2 linked regions of the Homo sapiens genome follow. The protein of the gene in region 2 purifies or fractionates together with the protein of the main gene of each other region. This does not show direct contact. Each region holds a gene or a part of one and is shown on either strand. Other genes may lie near its edges.

Region 1 (3,552 bases), on a different chromosome or scaffold from region 2:
CCCTGCTCCCTCCCTGGACAGTACAGCGTGTCTGTGATCCCAGTTGTTCACGCTGGAATCCTCAGAGCCAGTTTTGGTGTTATTTTGTTGTGTTTTGTTTTTTAACATTTAATAGTCGTTTTAGATTTACAGACAGTCACTTTTGACCATTATTTCTCCTCATCCTTAAATTATTTTAGCTATTAGTCACCAAGAGCTGTGAGTTCTACCTCTGAAATGTCTTCTGCCTATCAGCTTTCCCTTTGAAAGGCCTCATTGTCAACTTACGGTCTGTCCCAAAGCAAACAGCCAGTAATTTTTAAAACCGTTTAATCCGATAGCTCTCTCTTGCCTCTGAGATAAATTTCAAACTCTCTGACAGAGCATGTGACATTTTTGGACATTCTCTACCCTCTGACCTTCTTTCCCACCTGCCTCCCTAAGTCCCCTAACTCATCCCTATTCCAGTCCCACTGAACTGGTTATATTAGCTAAGATACTTCTTCTTGCATCCAACCCAAAGGGTTTTTTCCCTCTCCTCTTTTACTTGTCCTTCAACACTTAAAAGCTTTCTTAGGTTCAGCCGGGCGCGATGGCTCACCCCTGTAATCCCAGCACCTTGGGGGACCAAGGCGGGTGGCTCACCTGAGGTCAGGAGTCCCAGACCAGCCTGACCAACATGGTGAAACCCTGTCTCTACTAAACACAAAAAATTAGCCAGGCACGGTGGTGTACGCCTGTAATCCCAGCTACTTGGGAGGCTGAGGCAGGAGAATCACTTGAACCCAGAAGGCAGAGGTTGCAGTGAGCCGAGATGGCGCCGTTGCACTCCAGCCTGGGCGACAAGAGCAAAACTCCATTTCAAAAAAGAAAAAAAGCTTTCTTAGGTTCTCCAAATAATTTAGTTGTTCTTTCCTCCCACTTTTTATGGCTCCTAAAAGACAGAAACGTGCATATTTGTGACTTGTGGTTTTTTTAAGCATATCTTTGATTTTTAAATTCTTATTTTCATCAAGATAATAAATCAGATAGTACTAAGATTTTTTAGAAATGAAACGGTCCAACTCTGAGTCACACTACCTAGGACAGCCACTTTCACCTTCACTGTTTCTAAATAATAAATATATTTGTTTCTTCTTTTTCAATTGCCACCTCATCTTGTGACTTCCTGCTGAGGTAGATATTATAGCAAATGCTTCAAGACACACACATGCGTACACACACTCTGTCATGCAAAATACTTGTTTCCATATCTGAGTTCTCAGCTGTTCTGCACACTCCTCAAAGCTTCCGACTGTCTCTGCTGCCACATCTGAACCCAGCGTGGTACCTGGCTCTTTTTGACTACATAAATGAGTGTTTGTCCTTACTAAACAACGAAAGGGATGCTTGTGGAACCAAAACATTATTGTTAAGGCTTTGTATTATTCATTTATTTTTATTTGTATCTGTATGTATGTATATGAGACGGGGTCCCACTCTGTTACACAGGCTGAACTCGAATTCCTGAGCTCACGTGATCCTCTGGCCTCAGCCTCCAAGTGGCTGTGACTATAGGTGTGACCACTGGGCACGGCTTAAGGCTTCCTTTTTAATTAAGATGCCCAAACTAAACAGAACCAACATCAGAAGAGTAGGCCGGGAGGAGACTTACGAAAAAGGAATCATTCCAGGCTTCATCACTAAAACATCACGTAGAGTTTCATATTTGGCCTCACTATCAGACTGAGTTTCATGACACTAAAGATTCTTGAGCGTCTGCCCAGATGCTGTGAGTGGCAGGACTTGCTCTTTTACCAGAGATCCTACCGCCTGGCATGCGGGTCCCTGACCTCGTTGGTCCGCCAGCCACACTTCCTGGCTACAGGCTTGGTTTGCCCTTGACTCTGCCGAGTGAGGATCCACAGTTGCTCATTATCACCAGTATCTCTTGCCTTATTGAACATAACACTCTGTACTGGATTAATACTCTTTAAATGTTAAAAAATTTTTTTTATTTCTCTTCTCTTTTTTTTGGAGCGGGGGTTTGGGTCCTTTTTTTAATGTTAATTTTTTTTATTGTGGTCAGTACAGTGAGATATAAAGTGGGCTATGTCTTTTGTTTTTCAGGCTTGGAGTCAGTGTATATTCTATTTCTATTTTACAGGCAATGGCAGCAGATAAAAGTGACGAGTGGTTTGCCAAACACAATAAACCCAAAGCTTCAGGTTAACGGAAGACATGATGCAGAGCAAGCCTCTGTGATTCCTGCCCAGCACCTGTGAGGCCTGACGTGTCAGTTCCCAATAAATGCTCTTCTGATTTGTTTCCCGTACAGGCAAGGAGGCTTGGGTAGTGCAGATTTGTGTATTTCAATCTTTGAAAGCTCTGATGTAATTTAGAAATGAAATCCAATCATGAGTCCAGGTAGAGAACGCCTGCTGTAATCTACACTGTTGCTGGGACTGCGCATTCTGTATATAACTGTGTTGGATGAGTGACAGATGATTGTCCAGACTAGGACAGCGGCATGAACATGACTTTGGTTGGGATTGCGGATAGTTAGGGTTACCTCTGAATCGTGTAGCTTTTATGAGAGCAGCTGTGCAAGTGAATCCACATTAATGCCTTGTCGTGGTGCCATTCCCAGCGCCTGACGATACGCTCTTCTATTGTCTTATTCTGGCAGGTTTTGACGTTTTAAATTTTTTAAAGAAATTTTATTCCTTGGACCAAAAGGTTTGGTTAACCACCCCCCTCTTACTTGCTTTCACATTTTGAGTGTCCAGAGGAAACAGAAAGGAATGAGTGTGTGACGTTGCTGCACGCCTGACTCTGTGCGAGCTTCTTTCTGTGTATATATTTTGTTTTATTTTTTTCCGTGTATATTTTTAATCCCGACAGAACATCATGTGAGATTTCTTTAAAATGGATTAAACGATTTCTTCAGCCTGAAAAAAAAGGTTTTGAAAATGTTTTCTTGTAGTTTTGTTTGGTTCTAAACAACAAATAGGTTTTAATCACTCGAAATGGAATTATATTGTGTATTCATTGAATAAATTTTTTTTGAAAGTAAGCTTCTGAAATCAAGCTGTGATACCAGTCTCTAAGTCTCATCATGTAAAGTGGTGGCCAGGTTCAGATTTTTAAAAATAAACTTAGGAGATTGGAAGGGATTGACTCAGAGGATCCTGGTTCCCAAAGAACACATAGAGAATTACTTGTAAATCGTAACCTCTGCTTTCCTCCCTTACTGGCAGGGCGTAGGGCATCGAAATTTTGGTTGTATTTGAGCTTATCTTCTTATAGGGGTGATGCTATTATACCTTCACGGAGAGAAATAAATTCTCATCCAGCTCTACAACTTTTCATTCAGCTTGAATTCCATATCCTAGGGAAGCAGTCTTGAGTTTCAAAGCAAACCAAGTTATATATATGGCCCTCCTCTAGGTAATTGGTTCTTTTTATTTTTTATTTTTTTTTTTTGAGACAGAGTTTCGCTCTTGTTGCCCAGGCTGGAGTGCAATGGCGTGATCTTGGCTCACTGCAACCTCCGCCTCCCGGTTTCAAGCGATTCTCCTGCCTCAGCCTCCC
Region 2 (3,826 bases):
CCATAGGCATGGGCAAGGACTTCATGTCTAAAACACCAAAAGCAATAGCAACAAAAGCCAAAATTAACAAATGAGATCTAATTAAATTAAAGAGCTTCTGCCAGCAAAAGAAACTAGCATCAGAGTGAACAGGCAACCTACAGAATGGGAGAGAAATTTTACAATCTACCCATCTGACAAAGGGCTAATATCCAGAATCTACAAAGAACTTAAACAAATTTACAAGAAAAAATCAAACAACCCCATCAAAAAGTGGGCAAAGGATATGAACAGACACTTCTCAAAAGAAGACATTTATGCAGCCAACAGACACATGAAAAAATGCTCATCATCACTGGTCATCAGAGAAATGCAAATCAAAACCACAATGAGACACCATCTCACACCACTTAGAATGGTGATCATTAAAAAGTCAGGAAACAACAGGTGCTGGAGAGGATGTGGAGAAATAGGAACACTTTTACATTGTTGGTGGGACTGTAAACTAGTTCAACCATTGTGGAAGTCAGTGTGGTGATTCCTCAGGGATCTAGAACTAGAAATACCATTTGACCCAGCCATCCCATTACTGGGTATATACCCAAAGGATTATAAATCATGCTGCTATAAAGACACATGCACACATATGTTTATTGTGGCACTATTCACAATAGCAAAGACTTGGAACCAACCCAAATGTCCAACAATGATAGACTGGATTAAGAAAATGTGGCACATATACACCATGGAATACTATGCAGCCATAAAAAATGATGAGTTCATGTCCTTTGTAGGGACATGGATGAAGCTGGAAACCATCATTCTGAGCAAACTATCTCAAGGACAGAAAACCAAACACCACACGTTCTCACTCATAGGTGGGAATTGAACAATGAGAACACTTGGATACAGGGTGGGGAACATCACACACCGGGGCCTGTCGTGGGGTGGGGGGAGGGGGCATGGATAGCATTAGGAGATATACCTAATGTAAATGACGAGTTAATGGGTGCAGCACACCAACATGGCACATGTATACATAAGTAACAAACCTGCACGTTGTGCACATGTACCCTAGAACTTAAAGTATAATAAAAAATTAAAAAAAAAAAAGGAGGAGCCACTCTCTACAGAGGCAACCAGGAGGTGGTCCATGCCCCACCTGCTGTCAAGAGGGCCAAGGAAAACAGCTTGGACAGCATGCCTGCAACTGATTCCCACCCACCTGTGTGTGTGCCCTGGCACACCTAGAGGGAAGCCCTGCTCCAGACACCAGTGCTTCTTCTACTGTAATGTGCATACCACCCTTAGCAGATCTTACAGTGAAGGTTCTGATTCTGTAGGTAGCTAGTGGGGCCTGACAGCCTGCATTTCTAAAAGCTCCCACGTGTTGTCAAACTACTAGTCCAGGGACCACAAGCCTAAGCTATGCATTCCAAGTTCCAGGAACCATAGGTTAAGTAATGCAGCTTCTACAATTTCTTAAGGAAAGAGCTCATTTTCCTCTGTTCATTGTATAAGCTTGAGTAATTGTATCTTAGTGTTTGACTTTCTTAAAACTTTTTTGGATAGTTGTAAAAATGAGGGTTATTTATTTTTATTATTATTTTTTATTATTTTTGAGACAGAGTGTCACTCTGCCAGCCAGTCTGGAATGTGACCACAGCTCACTGCAGCCTCGATCTCCCAAGCTCAAGTGATCCTCTCTCCTCAGCCTCCCCAGTAGCTGGGAATACGGGTGTGCACCACTATGGCCAGCTAATTTAAAATGAGTGGTATTTAAATGCAGAGGTAGAAGAACAGGAGACAGTACATACGTCTTTGGCAGCCTTTAGCACAAGAAAAAACTTCAGATAAAGAAGAAATCATCTTGAAGGAAATAGGTTGTAGGTTGATAAAGCTACTTGAAGATGCAGGAAAGACATGAGTTGCATAGGATCATTATCATTCTTAAAATAATTAAAGCCACAGGATCTAGCACAAGGATAAGGATAAGAATGCAGAAATTTACTGCCAAAAATGCAATGTCCAACAGAGTGATTGGGAGGGGACAGTGTCTCAAGAGCTAGTTGTTCCAAGCTGACATTTCAGGTGTGAGATAAGTAATGCTTTTACTATCCTGCTAGATTGTAAGGGTTTATTTTTGAATGAGATGGAAAGGCCGGTGGTGGATACAGAAAGTGAGAACAAAGTTTCAAAGGCCTTCTTGACAGATGATTTGGACTTTGGCAAGGTGTGTTGTCTAACAGTGACTGAAGATTTATTTACTTATTACAAAGTTTCCCTGAGATTCTACAAACCCTGGGAATTTCCTTATTTACTAAATAACTTTAGATATTGTCCAAATTGTCATAGCTGCAATTGTTTCTAGTTAATATCAATTTCATTCTGTAGAATCACATAGTCAACAGAAAAAAAAGGTGTATGAAATTATTTTTATATTGAAGAATATAGCCCCACTTTGAAGGCTATAGCCAATATAAAATTCTAAGTCAGGGGTATACAGGTTAAAATGCATATGAAAATAGGCTCTCACCGGCCTGGGCAACAGAGCAAAACTCCCATCTCTACAAAAAATTAGCCAGCTATGGCAGTGTGGACCTGTAGTCCCAGCTACTCAGGAGGCTAAGGTGGGAAATCACCTGAGCCCAGGAGGTCAAGGCTACAGTGAGATCTCACCACTGCACCCCAGTGTGGGTGACAGAGCAAGACCCTGTCTAAAAAAAATAGAATAGCCTCTCTCAACTTCTTACTACATGTCAGAAAAAAAGTGGGGCAATATTTAAACAATTTTATGATTTTGTTCATGTGTAAGAGTGACAAAATACATTCTCATATATGCATGGACTTAGAAAACACGTCACTGTATGTTCCTCTTGAAATAAATATTTGAAGATCTATTCAGTTGACAGATGAACCAAAATTAAAGACTCAATATCTAGAAAAATTGTATAAAATGAGCACCAAATATGTCCAAATAATTCTAAATTTGATTACAAACCAAAAGCAAATGTCCAAACTGATCTTGAAAGAAAATATAAAAATAATACTTTAAATTACAATATTTGAACTTTAAAATCTCAGATTTCAATAATAAATACTGGTAAGAGAGATGCCAGGGGACTTTGGTTATCAAAAATTGTTAAATTCCTCAAGTTAGCAGGGAGGAAAACAATTACTAACTTTTTACCCGACTTGATAAGTTAAGAGAATTTGTCTCCAGCAGAACTGCATTATAACTAATACTAAAATAAGTTCTTCAGGTGAAGGAAAATGATGCCAAACAGAAGAACAGATCTTGGGAAAGGAATGAAAAACACTAGAGAAGAAAGATATGTGGGTAAATATAAAAGATCTTAAATATATGCATAATATAGCCTTAGTTAGTTTGGGCTCCTGTAACAGAATACCATAGACTGGGTGGCTCATAAACAACAGAAATTTATTTCCTACAATTCTAAAGGCTGGAAGTCTGAGATTAGGATGCCAGCCTGGTCAGGGTCTGATGAGGACTCTTCTGGGCCACAGACAGCTGACTTCTCATTGTACCTTTATATGGCAGAAGGAGAGCTAGAGAGCTCTATGGGGTTCCTTTTATAAGGGCACTAATCCCATTCATGAAGTCTCCACCTCCATGACCTAATGACCTTTCAAAGCCCCGACCTCTTAATACCATCATAAGGGGGTTAGGATTTCAACACAGAAATTGGGAGGGAGGGATAAAAACATTCAGTCCAAAATTCCTATGTTTAATATATATTGTTATATACATTGTTTAAAACTGTATACTGACTTATGTGACTATACTTAACACTATTCAACTAACACTTAAACATAGTAAAGATGG

The links.
Region 1: the proteins of NNMT (region 2) and GLOD4 fractionate together in Homo sapiens (co-fractionation; one large-scale study listed by BioGRID). This does not show direct contact.

What each region holds. Positions count from the first base shown.
Region 1 is NC_000017.11:758,812-762,363, reverse strand, and holds the end of GLOD4 (glyoxalase domain-containing protein 4), read left to right. Parts: intron 1-2,125; coding exon 2,126-2,191; 3' UTR 2,192-3,034; downstream 3,035-3,552.
Region 2 is NC_000011.10:114,302,608-114,306,433, reverse strand, and holds part of NNMT (nicotinamide N-methyltransferase), read right to left. Parts: intron 1-3,826. UniProt on the Homo sapiens protein: Catalyzes the N-methylation of nicotinamide using the universal methyl donor S-adenosyl-L-methionine to form N1-methylnicotinamide and S-adenosyl-L-homocysteine, a predominant nicotinamide/vitamin B3 clearance pathway.